3 separate regions of the Homo sapiens genome follow, and all the other regions are reported to be linked to region 2. The links are microRNA targets in miRTarBase. Many come from high-throughput screens and were not tested one by one. Region 2 holds a microRNA gene; each other region holds the end of a gene's coding sequence.

Region 1 (7,000 bases), not on the chromosome of region 2:
TCTGCGAGGGCAGGGCTTTTCACCGTCTTGTTCACTGTTCTATTCTTAGCACTTGGCACAGTGCTGGGCACACAGGAGATGTGACATCGATGTTTGATGCTTTTTGAGTGACAAGTAGCTCTGCTGCTGGTGTGTGATGTCTGGGGGCCCAGCCAGCCCAGATGTGGGTCAGGTCTGCTGCTGACGGACGCAGCTGTGGTGTCCCCGAGCCCCGCTGTGATATGCCCCATGCCCTGCAGGTGGAGAGCCCTGGCACGTACCAGCAGGACCCATGGGCCATGACAGACGAAGAGAAGGCAAAGGCAGTGCCACTTATCCACCAGGAGGGCAACCGGTTGTACCGCGAGGGGCATGTGAAGGAGGCTGCTGCCAAGTACTACGATGCCATTGCCTGCCTCAAGAACCTGCAGATGAAGGTACTGCCTGGAGGCTGAGGGGGAGGATGGATGGAGGGGGGTGTGGAGCCAGGGGGCCCAGGTCTACAGCTTCTCCCCGCTCCCTGCCCCCATACTCCCAGGAACAGCCTGGGTCCCCTGAATGGATCCAGCTGGACCAGCAGATCACGCCGCTGCTGCTCAACTACTGCCAGTGCAAGCTGGTGGTCGAGGAGTACTACGAGGTGCTGGACCACTGCTCTTCCATCCTCAACAAGTACGACGGTGAGCACCGGGCCCTGGGCTGCCGGGGGCTGCGAGTGGTCAGAGAGTGGCCTTTCTCCTGTCACTGCTGGGGTCAAGACCTAGCCTTTCACAACCCCCATTCTGAGCTCCCACGGGGGCCTGACTAAATGCCTCTACTCGGCAGGGCTGTGGGCCCCATTGTGCCAATGAAGCATGAATGGTGTATTGGGGGTGGGGTGGCATCCTCAGGTCAGGGAGGGCTCTCTCTCCCCTGTGGGCCCATGGTGCCAGGAGACATGAGGGCAGGCAGCTGGCCAGGATCCCCCCTCATGCCCTTGCATGCCCACTGCCCACTGGCCTCCCCTGCAGACAACGTCAAGGCCTACTTCAAGCGGGGCAAGGCCCACGCGGCCGTGTGGAATGCCCAGGAGGCCCAGGCTGACTTTGCCAAAGTGCTGGAGCTGGACCCAGCCCTGGCGCCTGTGGTGAGCCGAGAGCTGCGGGCCCTGGAGGCACGGATCCGGCAGAAGGACGAAGAGGACAAAGCCCGGTTCCGGGGGATCTTCTCCCATTGACAGGAGCACTTGGCCCTGCCTTACCTGCCAAGCCCACTGCTGCAGCTGCCAGCCCCCCTGCCCGTGCTGCGTCATGCTTCTGTGTATATAAAGGCCTTTATTTATCTCTCTCTGAGTCTGCTGAGCTGCTCCACTGGGAGAGCCGGGTCATCACCTGGCATTCCTGGTACTTGGGTGGCTGTTGGGAGGCAAAGAATCAGGGTTCAAATCCTAGCCCCTCCACCCACCAGCTCTGAGGCTCTGGTGTCCCTGTTAGAGAAATTACGATGAGCTCTTTCACCAAGGAAGTGTCTCTCGCTGGCCAGGGCTGGGGCGCCCCAGGAGCCCACAGTCTTAAGGGGGAGATGAAGTGGGTACAAGCTAGGTAGCTGGGCACCTGAGGGAGGTAGTCTCCTGGTGCTGCCCTCCCACTCCAGCCTCGGATCCCATGGTCTCCTGGCCTCGGTGTCTGGGGGCAGGGTTTCCATGAGAAGCTACGCTGGGGCTGAGGTGAGCCGGGTTGGGCTGGGGTGGGCTGACTGTCCAGAAAGAGGAGAGGGCCGAGCGCTTCGTGAGACCTTTTGAGGCCCAGGCCCCCATCCTGACCTGCCTGTGACATGGATGGCCCTGGGCGTGGGTTTCGTGCGACCTTTTGAGGCCCAGGCCCCCATCCTGACCCTGCCTGTGAGCTGGATGGCCCTGGGTGTGTGTTGGCCTCTCTGTGCACATCAGTGTCCCCTGTTGAACTGGAAACTGGGCTGGCTGCCCTGTGATGCCAGGCATGGGGTGAGTGGGTGGGGTGCAGGTGGCGTTTATTTTCATGGATTTATACACACTGGAAAAGCCTCTGCGCCCATGCCCACGCCCTCCTCCCTCCCCCCGGCGCTGGGTCCCCTCATATGAAAGGGAAGTAACACCGAGGAGCACACGGAGATATAGGGTGTGGGGCTGGGGGGGCCAGCGCTGGGGCCAAAAGTCTGGGTCCCCAGCCTCCCACACGCAGCCCCTCGGGCCCCTTGGGTGTGTCAATAAATAACCCAGGTCCAGGCTGGTGTGGGCCTCACTCCTCGCTGTCCAGCTTCAGGCTGATGCTCCGTGCTTTGCCCCGTGCCAGGGTGGTGGGTGGTGTTCCCGGGCCCTCACGCTCCGCCTGGCTGGGGCCCCTCGAGCGAAGCAGCTGGCTCTGTTTGCGCAGGAAGTCCACGGGGGCAGCCACACCATAGCTGCTCTTGCCCAAGGCAGCTCTCGGGGGTCCCGAGGAGGCATGCGAGTGCGAGCCCGCTTCCAGCTGGCCCAGGTGGGCCACATAGCCGTCTGACAGGAACTGTGGGCAGAGGTAGGCAGCGATGAGGGGGTGCTGGCCAAGGGCCCACACGCTGCCCTCCACGGTCCTCCAGAGGCACCTGAGGCAGGCTGGGGGACTGGTGGCAGGCTTGGCACAGCCTGAGCTGAAGCCTTCTCAATAGATAGGACCCCAGGCTGGGAGCCAGGGCACCTTGGCTGTGCTCCTAGCTCTGCCCTTCTCTGGGCCTCAGTCTCCTCATCTGGAAAATGGGGTCTTAGAGGAAAAATAACAGCAGCCAATGTTTAGCCAGCACTTGCTTTGTGCCCAGCCCTGTGCCTGTTGATGTGATCTTCATAAGCTGACATGGGCAGTGCCATGATCATTTCCATTTACAGATGGGAAGCTGAGGCTCAGAAAGGTCACAGTGGAAAGCCATGGCCGAGTGGAACCAGCGCCTAGGGTCTTGAGCACTTTCCAGTGTGGGCTGTCCCCTCTGGCTTGCCTGGCAGCTGGCAGCTCAAGCTGCTCATGGCCCTTGTCCTCGGAGGATCCCAGGTTCCCTGGAGGCCGGTTAGGCCTTCTCACATCTTCCCCAGAGTCCGTGGTTCCCAAGGCCTGGGACTGAGGGCCCTGCCCCCTGGTGGGGTCCTGTTCCTGGCCTTCACTTGGGCCTCACCTGGCACTGCGCCTGTAGCTTCCGCACGGCACGGCCCACGATGTAGGTCTGGCTCGGGGACAGCCCCAGCGCCGCGTATACAGCCACATCTTTGGGAGACCCATAACCGGCCACGATGTTCAGTTCTACCTGTGGCGGGAGATGCCAATCAGCCGCCCCAGGGGTGGAGCCGTGCAGCTGGGGGCGGGGCCTGTTGGGCTTCCCCAGATTGTTCTGGGGGTGGGTCCAGGCAGACGGAGGCGAAGACAGGTCCCAGTCCCACGGGGACAGGGGCGGGACCAGCTGCATCTCCCTAGTTGCCCCTAAGTACACGGGGCCCCTCAAACTAGGGGAGCAGGACCGTAGCGGGCCGCTGCAGTCAGGCAGGGCCCGGGCCGATCCAGTTGGGAACAGATGGGCCTCCGCCGATCCGGGGGTGGAGGGTAAGGGGGAGCGGGGGCGGGGTCAGGACCCGGAGCCTCCCCCAGCCGCCGCACCTCCTGCACCAGGCTCTGCAGAAACATTGCCTTCTGGCGTAGTGGGTCGTGGGTGAGGCCGTCGCAGAAGGAGACGACGCCGTGGGGGAAGTTGTGCTGCGACAGCCATGCCACCACGCGGTGCTTCTGCATATCCGGCCGGCCTGTGACATACACGATCAGGTAGCCGGAGTCCTGCCAGTGCCTGTGGGGCGGGGGCAGCGGTCAGCTCCGCTGGCCAGGGGTGAGGGGCCGGTCACCCCGGTGAAATGGGTGGTGGTGGCAGTGGCAACTCCTACCTGACCACGTCCACGGCGCCAGCTCGCACCTTGGGGTCGCTGCCCATGATGGAGACGCTGGCGGTGAAGGAGCCGTCGATGCTGAAGACCACAGCCTCCGTGCCGCGGGCCACCACAGTCAGGCAGCATTCGGCATAGGTGTGGTCGCCCCTGCGGCCCACGGGGCGGGGCGTGAGTGGCGCGGGGCGAGGCCTGGCGGAGCCCTCCCGCAGAGGCCCGGCCAGCCGCGCTCACCTGACCACCATGCGCACGGGGTAGACACCAATGCCCAGCGCGCGTTCTGGGGGAACTGGGAAGGTGAGGCGGCCCGAGCTATTGGTGACTTCGGTGCCAAAGTGGATCCACTTGCCCGACAGCGGCTGCGTCATGATGTAGACATCCACCTGGAGGGGAGAAGGGGCGGGAGGTAAATGGGGGCCCTGCGTGGAGGTGGGCAGAGGCGGGGCTGTCGTCGGGGATGGGTGGGTCTAGGGGCACAACCACCAGGGACCAGGAGCTGTTCCGAGGACAGGAGATGGGGCCATGGGACCAGGCGACAGGGCCTCTGGGTCCTGACCTTCTCTCCAGTGAGCGTGACGACGTCCAGGGGCCCGTACATGAAGCGCCCGCTTAGCACCTGGGGGCGGCCCTCGCACACCACCGTGTCGCTCGCCCGGTGGTTGGAAGTGACGTTCTAGAGGGAGGAGAGGGCGTGAGTCCGCGGCCAGCAAAGGATGGGGATGCTTGGGGAGGGGGAGCGGGTGAGGATCCACACGCAAACACCGGGGTGGGGGCCTAGAGGCGGCGGGGCATTGAGGGAAAAGGGCAAGCCCGGGGGGCGCACTTTTGTGGACCCCGGCCTGAGAGCCTGTGTGTGGGCCGCGCCTCCAGGGGCAGAGCTGTGACAGGACGGGATGCAGAGGATGAGGCGAGGTGGGGACCAGCGCAGATCCAGACCCTAGACCCAAACTTCCCGCAGAGGGCGGGGAGACCAGCGGTTCCCAGGGGCGGGGCTGGGGCAATGAGGTGGGGCCAGGACCCCAGGGGCGGGGCAGGACTGGGAGAGAGTTGGATCGGCTAGGACCCGAGGAGGGGGGTGCTGGGGGGAGGGGCGGGGCCTCTCTGGTGAGTGGGCGAGAGTGGGCGAGTGGGCGAGGGGGCGAGGGGCAGGGCACCTACCCGGATCTTGACCTGCGTGCGTTTTCGCTGCCACTTCTCCCTGGGGAAGGCCGGGCTGTAGATGGACGGCTCCTCGCATTCCGCCAGCTGTGGCCGCTCCTTCTCGATCACCTGCACGGGACAGGGGGCGAGGCCTCTGTCTCTTAGGGGAGGGAGGGCTGCCCCTCCCCCGGCCCAAAGCAGCCCATCCCCGTCCCATTCTCATCTCCCATTCCATATTCCCAGGCCCACCTGGCGCAGGATGAACGCCACCACGTCGGCGGACTCCCAGTAGCTGGCGTGGAAGAGGTGGGGCAGCGTGACGGTGGGAAAGGCGGTGAGCGCCTCGGGGCAGTACAGCGAGTAGTCGATCCGCTTGGTCCCCCACCAGCGCTCCAGGACTGCGCGGCCATGGCAGCGAGTCAGGATGGCCTCCTGCCCCACACCCATCTGCCTGGGCGCTGGGTGCTCTTCCCTCCCCCCTTTTCACCCAGCCTGCTCTTTGCCAAGTCCAGGCTGTGTGCTGGGGGAAAGGGTTTCTCAGCTGGGCTTCGGAGGTGGAATACGGGCCTCCCCCACCCCCAGGCTGGACTGCCTAGGCTGGCTGACTTACTCTTAACCACCTCACTGGTGGTGCTGGGGGCGGCTGGCTGGGCCGGGGGGTCAGTGGCCAACTCACTGCCCTTCCAGAAGGCACCGCTAGTAGAGGTGGGTGTTGAGGGCACCAGCATCTCCAGCTCCTCCAGAAAGAGGCTGGAGTGCGTCTGCAGAGTGTCGGCTGGGGGAAGGAGGGCAAGGTCAGCAGGGGCCGGCCAGGTGGCTCTCCTGTCTTCTCACCCAGGGCTCCCCGCACCTCTGCCATCTTCCTGTGGCCCCTCTGGTCAGGTCCTGGCTGAGGCTGCACTGTGGCATTCTCTCCTCTCAGCCCAGTGGCCAGCTGCACTCCTGCCAGAATGCCTGTTGCCACCGCCCCAAACGCTGCACACCTGTGCCCAACACAGGCCCGCTTGGCCCATACATACCTGGGCATGCCCCGCAATAAATGTCTGCAGCACACCCCACACAGATGCAGCAGCGCACACATGCTGGCTGCTTGTATGGCAGCACACCAGCATCATGCTGCCAGGGGGCACCCTCTCTAGCTTGGCTAACCACCCCCACCCAACTTCTAGGCCCAGGAGGTCAGAGGGTCCTGGGGATCCAGACCCCCCCAGGGGGAAGGAGCGCCTGGTCCTGGGAGTGGTGGCCTGAGAGGTTTTCCATCGTCTGGGAGCCTCCTCATGTCTTCTGCTACCTCCTCCCTTCCTGTGTGTGCCCTCCTCCTTCTCCCCTTTATCTTGTTTGGGGGCGTACCCAGCAGCAGGGATGAGCCATCTCCCAGGGGGAACTTCTGGTAGCGGGGCACGGTCAGTGGGGCGATGGCCTGGAACTTCGGGGCCAGCAGGGGCTCGAGGCGTGAGGCGCAGGGGTCAGCCGCGTGGAAGAGGTTGTAGATCTGTTCACAGGCTGGGCGCATCTGGGCTGCTGGTACCCAGAAGACAGAGAAAGATTGTGGGGTCAGGGTTTCAGCTGGGCACTCTGGGAGGTAGGGGGTGTGGGAGCAGCACCCTGATGTCTGGTGTGACCCCGAGCCAGCACTTCCCAAACTGCACTCCCTGGGAAGTCAGTAGGGCCCTGCTTAAAGTGAGACAGGGGCTGGGCACCGTGGCTCATGCCTGGAATCCCAGTACTGCGGGAGGCAGAAGCAGATGGATCACTTGAGGTCAGGAGTTCGAGACCAGTCTGGCCAACATGGTGAAACCCCGTCTCCATTAAAAATACAAAAATTAGCTGGGTTCAGTGGCTCATTCCTGGAATCCCAGCACTGTGGGAGGCAGAGGTGGGTGGATTACCTGAGGTCAGGAGTTCGAGACCAGCCTGGCCAACATGGCAAAACCCTGTCTCTACTAAAAAAAATACAAAAATTAGCTGGGC
Region 2 (7,264 bases):
GGACAGTGAAAAGCAGAGGGATTGGGGGAGTTCTTCATCTGGGGGACTGTCCCACTTGTTGTACCCCTGAAAACTTCCAGAAGGCCCCCGGGGGTAGCACAGCCTCTGTAGAGGACGACTGATCTCTGCTGTTGGTCACTTTTTAAGGTCAGCAAAATGAGGCCTAACGAATGCCACACAGCCGAGTCATAACAGAGCTGAGTGTCCTGGAGGGATGTGGCGGACGGGCCTGGGACGCCCTCAGCACAGGGCTCTTCCCTTCCAGCTCCAGTCCTTCGTTCCTGCTGAGGGAGGGCAGAGGCTAGGAGACATGGAAGCTTCCAGCCTATGTGGCCTTCTGAGCTGCCATGCCACTGAACTAGCATCCTGGAAAGAGAAAATCCCATGCAACCTGGATGTTGCTTTACTACAGTGAAGAGTTTAGAGCAATACTTTGGAATCAGACAGGCCTGGGCCCAAGTCCTGGCTCTCCCATAGACTGGCTGTGGGCTCATGGGCAAGTTCCTTAATTTCTCTTTGAGCCTCAGTTTTCTTCACTGTAAAATGGGGTTAATAGCATTCCCCAATTCCAGGGGAGTTGAGAGTACTTAGTGCAAAAGATGCATGTAAAATGCCTCCTTTACTTTTTTTTTTTTTTTTTTTTGAGACTGAGTTTCACCCTTGTCGCCCAGGCAGGAGTGCAATGGTGTAATCTTGGCTCACTGTAACCTCCACCTCCCAGGTCCAAGCAATTCTCCTGCCTCAGCCTCCTGAGTAGCTGGGACTACAGGCGTGCACCACCACACCCGGCTAATTTTGTATTTTTAGTAGACATGGGGTTTCTCCATGTTGGCCAGGCTGGTCTCAAACTCCTGACCTCAGGTGATCCTCCGCCTCAGCCTCCCAAAGTGCTGGGATTACAGGTGTGAGCCGTTATGCCTGGCCTCGCCTCCTTTACTTTTTACCTGGTAGCATGGGAAGCTGCCTGCAGTGAACTTGAGAAAGTGACACAAGAGCCTCAGCCTGGGAGGCTGGAGCAAGGAAAATCCCTTTTCGAGGAATCCTCCACCGCCTGGTTTGTTTTATAATTTCAGGGGCACTATGCACACTGACACATTGTGCACACCTCCATCTAGTTCTAGAAAATTTCCATCACCCCACAAAGATACCCCATATCTGTTGTCAGTCACTCCTCATTCCCTCATCCCTCTGGCCCCTGACAGCCACCCATCCACTTTCTGTCCCTGTAGACTGGCCACACTGGGCCTCTCATGTAAATGGAATGAATCGTGTAATACGTGGTCCCTTGTGTCCGACTTCTGTCACTCAGCATCATGTTCAAGGTTCATCGCGTTGTAGGGTGTGTCAGAGCCTCGTTCCTCTCTATGGCTGATGGTATGAGTTGTATGGATGGACCGCGTTTCGTTTATCCACTCCTCAGCGATGGACATTTGCTTTTTCCTACTTTTCGGTGACTGTGAGTCATGCTCCACTTTGAACATCCTGGCCCCTGGCATGTCATCAGGGTGGAATGAGAGTGAGCTGGGTCTCTTCTGAATCTAGGCCTTTGTTTTGGGTGAAAGGACACAGCCTTTGGAAGAAGACAGACCTGGGTTTGGATTCTGATTCCATACAAGTCACCAGGTGCCTCAACCTCTCTGAATCCCAGTTTCTTCATCAGACAAAGGGATAGTTATGAGGCATCGACATGACATTTGTGTGTGATCAGCACATCGTAGGGATCCAACAAATGGTCTCATTTGTGTCCAGCCAGCTCCTTCAATGCCTTAATTATTGCACTGCAGCCTGGGTAGGGCATCCCTTCTCCCAGCTCTAAGGTATGGATTCCCATGGGTTCTAGTCAGGGGTACACTGTGGCCAGTTCGTAGGGCTCACGAGAGCCGATGGTGAGCGTCTCTTCCCTACTCCACACTCAGGGACTTTGCATTGGTACCTTGAAATCAACCAAAGTGGGAGTGTTTATACCCTGGAAATCAGCAAACCTTCAAAGTGGGGCTTACCCCAACCCCTGACCTCTGGAGAGCCAGTTGTTAAACATTTACCAACAACCACAGGTTCTAGTATTTTCTGTTAAGCTGGCCTGGTGGCAACAGGCCAGAGAGTTCAGGAGAGAGTAAGGCAGGACAGCTCAGGGGTTAAGCCCGAGGATGCTGGAGCAGACATGTGATCTTGGTCCTGGCCGGCAGGCCTGCCAGTGCTGCAGAATCTGTGAGCTCCACGTCCTCACTGTCTCCATCTCCTTTGGCACTCAGCTGCAACAGCAGGACCTGGAGGCAGGTCTGCTGCATGGGACATGGGGTGTGGGGACTTCTGGGGAAAGCATTCCTTTCCAGTAAAAGTGATGCAAAGGAGGAGATGCCTCCTCTTCTTGGATGTTTTCATGTCCATACAGTGACTCCTGGAGCTGCAGCAGCCATCATGTGACCTTTCCAGAAGGGTGTGGACTGGAGACAGTGGGAGAAGCAGGGCCCCAGGTCCTTCCTCAATGCCACCATCCTCCACCCTGGACTCAGGCTTATGCTTTCTTTTTCCTCTTTCCTGTTGAATTTGACCACTGGCATTTCACTAAAACAAAGGCAAATCTCCAACCCACATGTCACAGCCAGGAAGGAGGCCTGACACCCCCAGGCCCTCAGGACTCAGCACTGGATGCACAACTTTCAGGGAGCGCAGGAAGCTCGGGGAGCAGAAGCCACTCTCAGGGGCTCCTGAGCCAGGGGACAGAGCAACAAGGACAGCACTTCCCACCCCAGCATGCCGCTCCAGCCTCTACACTGTGACCACAGGGCTTTCAGGTGGGGCAAAGGGCTCTGCCCGGCAGGCAGCGTGACGCCCATGCTGCCAGACTGAGGCCCTGAGTCCGGTCCTGATGCCAACAGTTGAGGATCCTGGGGCCAGCCCCTGTCTTTGCCATCCTCTGGCCCTGCACTCTCATACCTGTAAGCTCAGCACTTTGGGAGTCCAAGGTGGGCAGATCATGAGGTCAAGAGATCGAGACTAGCCTGGCTAACATGGCAAGACCCCGTCTCTACTAAAAATACAAAAATTAGCTGGGTGTGGTGGTGGGCACCTGTAGTCCCAGCTACTCGGGAGGCTGAGGCAGGAGAATCGCTTGAACCTGGGAGGCAGAGGTTGCAGTAAGCCGAGATCGTGCCACTACACTCCAGCCTGGTGACAGAGTGAGACTCTGTCTATAAATCAGTCAATCAATTAATCAATCACTGGTCCACGTGCCTTCACCCACACCCTCTCCCAGTCTGAGGTCCAAGAGTCTGGGGTTCAGGCTCCTTCCTGCATGGACAGATCCATCCCTGATGGCACCCTCTAGAGACAAAGGCAAGAAGGCCATGGGCAGAGATGTGGCATGTCGTGGCTGCACTCAGAAGAGGAAGAAAAGACCACCAGATATTTTAGCTGCTGTATTTTAAACATCAGGACACGGAGGCTGAAAATAGATAATGATTGTGGAAAGCCAAACAGCTGACATGTTTATCCATCTCATTCATCACTCCTTCTTCCCTCAGCAATTGGTCTTGGGCAGCCCCTGCTTCTGATAACCCCTGACATTCACTCTGCCCTGGGTCTCTGAGGTCTTCTAGAACCCAGGACTCCACCAACCTCCCAGAGCCTAGGTGAAAATCTGTGCAGGGGAGGGGGGCCTATGGGGAACCCAGGGTGTCAGGAGGTGAGGGGAGACAAGAATGGGGTGAAGCAGCCTCATGAAGCAAGGAGAGCCTCAGACGCACCCCCCAGCACAGACATCTGTGAGATGTCTGCCTTGGGGGCCTTGATGGGATCCAGCGGTTCTGAGTCCAGCCTCAGGAGCCCCTGCGGTGGAGCTCTGAGTGGGGCAGGGGCCTGGGAGATGCCAGAAGGATGAGAGCAGGGCCCCCCTGGTCCAGGGGACAGTAAGAGGTAGCCAGTCCCAGAGAAGCGCCCCCACAAACTGTTACCCGTGGTGTGCAAAGCGTCCTGCAACCCCAGCCCTCACCAGGACTTCTTGCATTTTTCAGGAAAGCAGTTGTGATTGGCATGGTTCTTAAGCGTCTGCAGGAAGCTGTGGCCTTTTTGGTATTTCAGGAGGGGTTGCTAACCCCCCTCATTGTAGGATTGGGGTATCCCAGCTGCTAATTCCCCTCCTAACAGCCCTGCAGTGCCTGGATTGGAGGTGTGACAGGTGGCATTTTCGGCCCGAAGTCCCTAGGAAGGAGAGGTGGCTGTAGCCTGCGCATTTGTGTAAATTAACCACCCCTTTTAGTTCTGTGAAAGGAGAACTCGATTAGTTTAAAATCACCTGCGTGAAAGAGGGTCTTGATTAGTTTAAAATCACCTGTGTGAAAGGGTCACTTGATTAGTTTAAAATCACCTGTGTGAAAGAGGCTCTTGATTAATTTAAAATCACCTGTGTGAAAGGGTCACTCGGGTAGTTTAAAATCACCCACGTGAAAGGGGCCCTTGATTAGCTTAAAATCACCTGGGTGTTTCATTTTATCTCAGTTGACCTCTGAATCTTTATCCTACAGCTTCTTGCAAGCTCCAGTCTACCTTCTAAAGGAATAATGGGGCTCACCTTTCTATGTTACTTTATGTGGGAGTAGTTGTAAAACAGAATAAGGGAGACTGCGGGGATTGTGCAGAAATGTAGCACCCGTTTACGTGTTGGGAGGCTGAGGTGGGAGGATCGCTTGAGCCCAGGAGTTTGACACCAGCATGGGCAACTTGGTAAGATCCCTTCTCTACCCCCCAAAAAAAAAAATTTAGCTGGGCATGGTGGTGGGTGCCTGTGGTCCCAGCTACTCAGGACGCTGAGGTGGGAGGATTGCTTGAGCCCAGGAGTTTGACACTAGCATGGGCAACATGGTAAGACCCCATATCTACAAAAAAAGAAAAGAAAAAGATAAAAAAAGAAAAATTAGTCCAGCGTGGTGGTGGGTGCCTGTGGTCCCAGCTACTTGGGAGGCTGAGGTGGGAGGATTGCTGGAGCCCAGGAGTTTGACACCAGCATGGGCAACATGGTGTAAGAACCTGTATCTACAAAAAAAAAAAAAAAAAAAGAAGAAAGAAAAGTTAGCCGGGCGTGGTGGTGGGGGCCTGTGGTCCCAGCTACTTTGGAGGCTGAGGTGGAAGGATCACCTGAGCCCAGGAGGTGGAGGCTGCAGTAAGCTTAGATTGCAGCACTGCGGTCCAGCCTGGGTGACAGAGTGAGACCCCATCTCAAACCAGAAGCACCAAAAGGTGTCTGAGGTCAGGCACGGTGGCTCACGCCTGTAATTCCAGCACTTTGGGAGGCTGAGGTGGGTGGATCACCTGAGGTCAGGAGTTCGAAACCAGCCTGGCCAACATGGAGAAACACCGACTCTACTAAATATGCAAAAATTAGCTGGGTGTGGTGGCACACACCTGTAGTCCTAGCTACTGCAGAGGCTGAGGTAGGAGAATCGCTTGAACCTGGGAGGTGGAGGTTGCAGTGAGCTGAGATTGCACCACTGCACTCCAGCATGGGTGACAGAGTGAGACCTTGACGGGGGCGGGGTGGGGGTGGGATGGACCTTCTGGGGATGGACCTAAGATGGTGGTAGGAGCCTCTACAAGTGGAATTGTGATGTGCACAGCCTGGGTAAATGGGGTTGGCTATATTTAGACTTTAGTGGGGACATAGCCTATTATTTTTTAACACCATTGAACTCAGAATCGGGACCCAGATTTGCCAGGACAGCGCGGGACAGAGACCTCTCCTGGGCTCTGTGTCCCCTGTTAATAGACTGAGAGACAGAATGAGAGCTTCGAAGATGCTGTGGGAGGAGTGCTGGACGTCTCCAGGTGGTGAGCTCAGGAACGTGTGTGTGTGAGTGTAGCCATCAATCCTGGGCTCTGTCTGCCCTGTTAACAGACTGAGAGATGGAATGAGAGCATCCCCAGGTGGTGAGCTCAGGAAGGTGTGTGTGTGTGTGTGTGTGTGTGTGTGTGTGTAGCCATCAATCCTGGGCTCCGTCTGCCCTGTTAATAGACTGAGAGATGGAATGAGAGCGTCCCCAGGTGGTGAACTCAGAGACGTGTGTGTGTGTGTCTGTGTGTGCATGTGTGTAGCCGTCAGTCTCCCGGGCTCCGTCTTCCCTGTTAATAGACTGAGAGACACAATGAAGGCATCCCCAGGTGGTGAGCTCAGGGACGTGTGTGTGTGTGTGTGTGTGTGTGTGTGTGTGTGGCCACCAATCTCCTGGGCTCTGTCTGCCCTGTTAATAGAGATGGAATGAGTGCATCCCCAGGTGGTGAGCTCAGGGACACGTGTGTGTGTGTGTGTAGCCGTCAATCTCCTGGGCTCTGTCTGCCGTTAATATACTGAGAGACGGAATGAGAGCATCCCCAGGTGGTGAACTCAGGGACGTGTGTGTGCTTGTGTGTGTGTGTGTGTAGCTGTCTCCTGGGCTCCTGGGCTCCATCTCCCCTGTTAATAGACTGAGAGACAGAATGAGGGCGTCCCCAGGTGGTGAACTCAGGGACGTGTGTGTGTGTGTGTGTGTGTGTGTGTGTGTGTGTGTGTGGCCACCAATCTCCTGGGCTCTGTCTGCCCTGTTAATAGAGATGGAATGAGTGCATCCCCAGGTGGTGAGCTCAGGGACACGTGTGTGTGTGTGTGTAGCCGTCAATCTCCTGGGCTCTGTCTGCCGTTAATATACTGAGAGACGGAATGAGAGCATCCCCAGGTGGTGAACTCAGGGACGTGTGTGTGCTTGTGTGTGTGTGTGTGTAGCTGTCTCCTGGGCTCCTGGGCTCCATCTCCCCTGTTAATAGACTGAGAGACAGAATGAGGGCGTCCCCAGGTAGTGAGCTTAGGGACATGTGTGTAGCCATCATTATCCTTTAGTACCTGGTCCCCGTGCCCTCCGAGCCATCCAAGGGCTTCAGGAGGCCGAGCAGAAGGAGGGTTGGTAAGTGAGTCCACGGACCACCACGCAGGCCCTGGGGTCCTTTGGAGGGTGAGCCCTGCGGGTGGGGGGATGATGGCCCCGGAGGGTGTGCTCTGGGATGAGAGGGGACGTGCAGGTCGGGGGATGAAGGCTGCATTGCGGACAGAGCAGGCTCGGGACCTGGGCGCCACCTGGTGTCGACTCAGCTCACTCCTGAGCTATGCCTCTTCCTTGTCTTATAGTGGGGATAAAAAGCCATAGATGGCCGAGCGCAGTGGCTCAGGCCTGTAATCCCAGCACTGTGGGATGCCAACCCAGGAGGATTGCCTCAGCCCAGGGGTTCGAGACCAGCCTGG
Region 3 (7,000 bases), not on the chromosome of region 2:
ATCTTCCTAATTTTTGAGCATGTATTTATGTTTTTATTTTTGTTTTTAGCTCTTCTTTTGGTTTTGTTTGTGGCTTTAAATAAACGTCAGTGTCTGCTAAACTTAACACAGGCCAAGAGGACCAGGGTGGCTCATCTTTGCAGGTAGATCCCAAAGAGAAGTGAGGGAGATAGGTTGAGCTATTCAAGCGGAATTTCTGCTTCCAGTTTTACCACTTAGATAATTCATTGGTTCCTCCTCTATGGGAGAGTAGATCAGAGACAGAATCACATGTTACAATAATTGATCTACTGGAACATGTTAAACAAAGCAGGGAGAAAAGCATTCCCCCTCCTTACCAATCATCACATGTGACTTCCATTGACAGATGTGTAAATTGAGATCAGAAAAGTCACCTACCCAATGTTACTTAGTAAAGAACAAATGTTCAATTATAGTCCAATCTATCTTTTTTGCTATTCTGATTGCACTGAGGACATCCCTGTAATTAACTGGGAATGAAAACAGTATGGTTTTCTCAGGATGATCACAAGTGGGAGGGAGAATTTATCAATATTATATTTTCATAGCTTTTTATTGTTTTTAAAATTATAATCTTTAAATTATTAAAAATTTGTCAATTTATTCATTTATATGTGAAGCAAGCTTTATTTTTGATAGTATATTTGTTTTGTGGGCTTTTAAAAGTTTTGTTTGCTTTGAAGGATTTACAGTAAGTTCTGAAATGATACACTAAAGCACTAGGAGTATATAGCATGTTGAGCTTGCATTTCTGTTTAATGTTGAAATTGAAAAAAATTTAGATTCAGAATATTATTTATCAAATAGAGAAGGCTCATTTTCTTTGGTCCAACTTTATAAATTATGTATAATATTTAAGAGCAAGGTCTGGTTTCCATTTCAGTTATTGATTTGAAATAGAGCATTTTGGCATCAGAAATGTAGACAGCAGGCATTTCCTACACTTAATGTATTCCCTCAAAACCAAGAAGCAGCTTAATGTAGACAGTTTTGTAAGATTTGTCACAGATTCTGGGTGCTTTCGAACTATCTCACATTTTATTCAGTGTAATTCACTTTTCTGTATGGTAAAATGTGGGCAAATACATTCTTTCTAACAATATCTTGGAGACCTTATGCTGTGAGCATTTAATTTGTAAAATGTGGTTTGACTTCCTTGAAAGGGATTGCTAAGTAAATGTGATGATTAATTTTATGTGTCAACTTTGACTGGGTCACAGGGTACCTAGATAGTTGGTGAAACATTATTTCTGGGTGTGGCTATGATGGTGTTTCTGGATAAGATTAGCATTTCAATTGGTAGACTGAGTTAAGCAGATTACCCTCCCCAGTGTTGTTGGGCATCATGCGATCCATTAAGGGCATGAATAGAATGAGAAGGTGGAAGAAGGTCCAGTTAACTGCCTGGCCGCTTGAGCTGAACATTGAACTTCTTCTGTCCTCAGTGCTCCTGGTTTTTAGGCCTTCAAACCCAGACTGCAACATTATTGGCTCTCTGGCTCTTAAGCTTTTGAACTACACCTCTGGCTTTCCTGGGTCTCCAACTTGCAGATGACAGATCATGGGCCTTTGCATCCTCTAAAATCATTTAAGCCAATACCTTATAATGAGTCTTTATATACTTATGTATGTGTGTGTGTATATATATATATATATATGCTTATATGTGTGTATATATGTGCTTATATATATATATATATATGTATATGTATCTGCCCCTAGTTCTATTTCTCTGGAGAGCTCTGACTATAGTATAGTAAAAGAGATACTTGACTTGACTCTGGCAAGTGAATGTCTTTTTTAACTTACTGATACTATTCATGATTCCTCTTTCTCTAAGAGATGCTCCAGAGGAAATGGTGAGCATATAACTAATTCCAACTTTAGTGATTTATTAATTTTTGTATTTATAACTTTTGGAAATAGACTGAGAAGTGATAGATACTTAAAGATGAGGATAGTTACAGGATTAATGGAAGGAGGTTCAACTTATTTATTAGTTTCAGTACTAACAGATAAATGAATAAATTTTACGCTGTAACATTTATTAAGGGCACTGAGTATATAGAGAACTTTTATAGATAACAAATTAGGGACAATAAATGGCAAGAACTGGTAGCAGCACTGGTTTGGGGACAAGTGGCCCTCAAATTTTGTTAGGTATCCTTGGCCATAGGTGAAAGGCTTACTCAAAGTAGATTGCAGATTTTTGGGGGGATGGAATCTAAGTGAAACTGTGTGTCTTAGAGTTCTCCAAAAAAGCCGAATTAATAAGGCTGAGAAGTCTCATAATCTGCTGTGCAAGTTGGAGACTGGGTGGTTAACGGTGTAATCCAATCTGAGACTGAAAGCCTGAGGAACAGGGAAGCCAATGCTGTAAATCACAGTCTGAAGGCAGAAGATGAGATGAGATGTCCCAGCTCAATCAGTGAGCTGTGTGTGTGGGAGGCAAGCCTGTGGGGTATTCAGCTGGTGCCCCGAGATAGGGTGGGTTGCAACATGTGAAAAGCTGATGTCTAGAAAAGAAAGGGATTGGAAGAGAGAAAAGAAAATGTGTGGAGAATGAAGATAAATGGCTAAATTTAAACTCCCCGAATCCCCCCTCCCTCCTTTTTTTGCAGAGATTGTTTTGCCAGATTTTTAGAAAAGAGAGATGAACACCTTTTAAACTCTGAGGAAAGAAATGGGCTCATTGGTATGGAGCAGAACAGAATACTAGGGGTAAGAAATGCTATAATCATTCCTGTTCTGAAGTCCATTTAGTAACAGCTGTGTGATTCTCTTATTCTCTTATTCTAGGGTCCCATAAATGACCTAGAAACTGCATTATATTTATTAGAACTAAAAAAAAATTCACTACAAGTAACATATAAATTTAGGAGGAGAAGGATCTGTGAAAGGTTTTATAAATATAGGATAGATATATATCCTACTTGAAAATTTTCTATCTCTTCATTTTGAATTATGTTAGTAGTATCTATGTTCCGTAACCACCTCCCACTCACTCCCAGGCCAAAACAATAAAATACCTACTGTTACCTAAAATCACCAGGTCCAAACTCTTCATTTTCCTATCAGTTTATTGTTGTACATATGAGGTACCATGCTACTATCAGAATTATATCTAGGTTTTTTATTTTAAAAAACTCAGAGAAAAAAATGTTTCCAGTAATTTTCATTCAATGTGAATGACAAGAATATTACAGCTATAAACATTGAAATAACCATTTCATTTCTTCCTGAGGAAGTTTCATATTTTAAACAATGAAAAAGGGAATTCTATACAAAGCTAGTTTTAAATCAGATTATCTCTCATTATTCTCTCATATGTATTTATGTTACTTTCAGATTAGCATATTAACCAGTTGGAGTATATAATGTGGAAAGTATGCATGTCCTCTAGAATTTGATGCTGTCTTCAAGACACATTGAGTGGTCAAAAATCCTTTCACAGGTTTGCTGCTCTAGCTAGCGTAATACATGTACTTGTGAATGAATAAATTTTGGTAAGATCTCTTCCTTTTTCTCCTGTCTTTATACAAACACGGAGTATGTTTTTGACATCTATTTAAAAGGATGAAGTGTTCAGTCAACTCGATTTACCTAAACAAAATAGGCCATTAGCAGCTTTGCTTAGCAGTTCAAATGTACATCTTACCATTAAAGCATAAATGTATCAGTTTTTCTTTTCTTTTTTTATTAGAATAAATGTTGTTGCCAAATGAAAACATGACACTGTATATAACTGCTGAGGCCTATTCTCATGTTTAACCTTCCTAAGCCAGTTTTCTTAAGTTGGTGGAGATGGAAGACTATAGTAATTTTCCTAGCATGTCTGGCATCTGCTGCTATAAAAGAGACAGCAGTAAGCATGAAGACTGTGTTTCCCATATTTGTCCAAATCACTTTGATTTTGCTTTTAGAGTCAAGAGTCTTAAAAATTGGTGATTTTTCCAATTTTTTCTGCTAATAGTATATTTAAAAATTAGCATATGCTTTAGGTACATGAAACTTTAAAAAAGTAATTATAATGTACAGTTAAAAATTTATAGTAAGTGGATCTCACAATTCATTTTCTAATTAGTAATTGATAGTTTTACCCATTAAAATGACAATGAAAATATTTTTACTATGGGTTTTCCTCCCATTTGTTTCTAATCATACCTTTGATAATATTTTATAAAGGCTTATAATCATAGCAGGGAATTAATTTACTACTTAAATTTTATGTATATGTACAGTACATTTAAAAATTAAGTAGTCAGGGCATGGTGGCTCACGCTTGTAATCTCAGCACTTTGAGAGGCCAAGGTGGGTGGATCATGAGGTCAGGAGTTCAAGATCAGCCTAGTCAACATGGTGAAACCCTGTCACTACTAAAAATACAAAAATTACCCGGGCGTGGTGGTGCATGGCTGTAATCCCAGCTCCTCAGGAGGCTGAGGCAGGAGAATCACTTGAACCCAGGAGGCGGAGGTTGCAGTGAGCTGAGATCACACCATTGCACTCCAGCCTGGGTGACATAGTGAGACTCTGTCCCCCTCTCAAAAAAAAAAATTAAGTAAATATTAACAGGAAAATAAGTATGATGTATTCTTTTCTTTTTTGGAAACTTTATTAACCATATATATTATTTACAATTGAAATGTAAATATATTTCAAGAGCATGACTTGCTCATCTTTGTACTTCCTGCATTTAATTTAGTAGCTAATCCTTAATTGTACCTATGATCTGTTACTTCCACCAGAGTGATGGGTGAAATATTTTCAAAAATGGGCCTCTGCTCTGCTTATGTTTCTTTGCCTTATATCAAAAGTATCATTGCAAACATTAGATTACAAATAATATATTAATTTGTTTTTTGTTATAAATCTCTACTACATTACATAATTTTATTTTGAACTATCTGGGAAAATGCAATTTTTTAATAACCTAAATGTAAATAGCCTAACCACATCATCTAGGGAAACTGTTTTTAGTTTTAGTTTAATAGGTTTTGTTTTGGGGAGCATTAAAAATAGCTATTCACATTTAAAAGTCAACCTGTTTCTGGAGATGACACATACCTCAGACTCTAGGCATGCATTTCTGTAGAACTAGTGAGGACTACTGGGATAGATTCACAGCTTACAGCAAGTGGACATAGAATTCTCGATGATATGTTTTTAGACCCCTACAATTTCTCCCTTTTAGAGGATTCAGTCAGTACACTTTACATTGTTATTTACTGTTTTGGTGTACTTGATGTGTTTCTATTTACCATCCAACAGCTTTACAGTATATATTTCAGTATAACAATTACGTTGTGATGGAAGAGTTAGTAATTTTTACATATATTCACTAGACTATGTATATGAAAAAATCACTTTTGCTATAGCACTTATTTTTTTTTGGTGCAGATAACACTCATATATAACTTTTCCACTCTGATCTAGCACAAATTATAATTTACAATTATTTCTAAATACTTAAGTGGATTTAAATTTTGGCAAGCATTTTTCATGGGTGTTATGCTTTTGACATTTTATGCTACATTGTGATGTTTATTTTGCTTCTTGTTTCATAGGACACTTTATAGAATAAAATAATAAGAAAACATCGTACAGGCAAACAGTGGTCTAAAAACCTACAGAGACACAATCTTAGTTGATATATAAAAGTGTAAATATTACTATGAAATGGAACAGTTCTGCATTTGTGTTTGATATTTATGTTGGTTGCAATTGACTTCCACATGAGTGCACAGTAGTCTACAATAATCCCACAGGCTCAGATATGGGTTAAGAGAAAGGCCACAGGCCTCAAGGCTTGTAACACATACTTTTTCTTTTTTTCTAATCATCCACGTGCCAGCACATGGAAGAAACTGTTCTTTTTTCTCATTTGAAGAGGTATATTTTTCAACTGCCTTTTGGTAGCTTCTGGAAGCTTTGGAAAAGGTGTGTTCTACATGGACGATGAAGTCTCAAGTTTTCTCTCAGTGCTATCTTACTTTCTGCAGCTCCTGTCTCAGCCAGGATGGCAGAGGCTGACCCAGTTTGTGCAGCAGCTTTGAGAGTTCCACGTTGTGATCTCGATAGTAGCTTGACAGAAATGTCCTGCTCTAAGTGGAGAGGAGGAGAGAAAAGTACATTTTATTTTGTTTATTACATTTCATACACTTTGACTACGTTGAAATAAGTACCAAGTATACCAGATCTGGATTAAAATTTGTATTAAGCATATGGACTATTTATTTAGCACATGCTATGATATTTTACTGACAGTCTTGGGTACTGGCATTTTTCTTACTAGGAAGAGGCAAAAGGTGTGGTGACAGTACTGCCCACTCTAATCCCTCCTACACATTTGTATTTTCATTACCTCTGTGAAGACCTCTTTACTCTTACCTGCTTTGTGGACATTATTTTCACAAAATCAGCCACTCCCTTAAATAAACCCAATATGGATTACTCAGTAACCTTGTTGAGAAGGAAGGATATCCTGAAAAGTTGTGTTTTTCTTATCTTTCTCTACCTCCAAATTTAATAAGGTCTGTGTTAGACCAGAGTAAAACAAAATGCTAAGAAAGATATTCTGCAGTGTCTCTTAAACATTTTAGCTTTAATAAATTTACGGGGAAATAGCTTTGACATAAATGCATATGATATATTTTATATTACTTTCTTGAAATACTATAGAAATTGTATGTCAATTTCTTTTGGGAAAAGAAGGGTTGTTTTCAAAGTGCTCTGAAGGTATATTTTAATCAGCCACAGAAAATTGGAGTTCTGAAAATGCAGTTTGTTTATCAAAATAACAGAAACTCTCTCTCTCTTCCGTATATGATTTAATTATGAGTTTATTGAGGACAGACCCTGCATCTATCAGGCAAGGCACAAAAAGTAGTCCTCAAGGTTTTGTTAAAGTATTCTAATAAGTTTAGCCCACCTTAGGATCCTCAGACCATCTTAGGGTTCTCAGTTAATGTAATGTATT

What was found. The annotated mature microRNA hsa-miR-1268a reads CGGGCGUGGUGGUGGGGG and lies in region 2 at 5,073-5,090, shown strand. An mRNA with a match to its seed (bases 2 to 7 or 8) in the 3' UTR can be bound and repressed. Matches are read on the target gene's strand: a 7mer-m8 pairs with bases 2 to 8, a 7mer-A1 pairs with bases 2 to 7 and ends in A, and an 8mer does both.
Region 1: the mRNA of AIP is a reported target of hsa-miR-1268a. The part of its 3' UTR that is shown has no 7-base or 8-base seed match.
Region 3: miRTarBase lists NDST3 as a target of hsa-miR-1268a. Seed matches in the 3' UTR shown: 7mer-m8 at 4,419-4,425.

Annotation. Positions count from the first base shown.
Region 1 is chr11:67,489,799-67,496,798 of GRCh38, forward strand. AIP (AHR interacting HSP90 co-chaperone) reads left to right here. Exons shown (of 6, transcript NM_003977.4): 4 at 240-416; 5 at 518-659; 6 at 990-1,305. The coding sequence ends at 1,195. PITPNM1 (phosphatidylinositol transfer protein membrane associated 1) reads right to left here. Exons shown (of 24, transcript NM_004910.3): 15 at 6,380-6,550; 16 at 5,640-5,804; 17 at 5,279-5,427; 18 at 5,048-5,158; 19 at 4,446-4,562; 20 at 4,124-4,272; 21 at 3,890-4,039; 22 at 3,612-3,795; 23 at 3,136-3,264; 24 at 1,970-2,498. The coding sequence ends at 2,235. It overlaps MIR6752 (microRNA 6752), which reads left to right and starts at 447; the gene lies at 447-517.
Region 2 is chr15:22,223,134-22,230,397 of GRCh38, reverse strand. MIR1268A (microRNA 1268a) reads left to right here and starts at 5,069; the gene lies at 5,069-5,120.
Region 3 is chr4:118,254,718-118,261,717 of GRCh38, reverse strand. It overlaps NDST3 (N-deacetylase and N-sulfotransferase 3), which reads right to left. Exons shown (of 14, transcript NM_004784.3): 14 at 3,084-6,125. The coding sequence ends at 6,006. LOC105377392 (a long non-coding RNA gene) reads left to right here. Exons shown (of 3, transcript XR_939113.3): 2 at 2,643-2,742. Among named protein-coding and RNA genes, the nearest start is that of SNHG8, 21 kb to the left of the region's middle.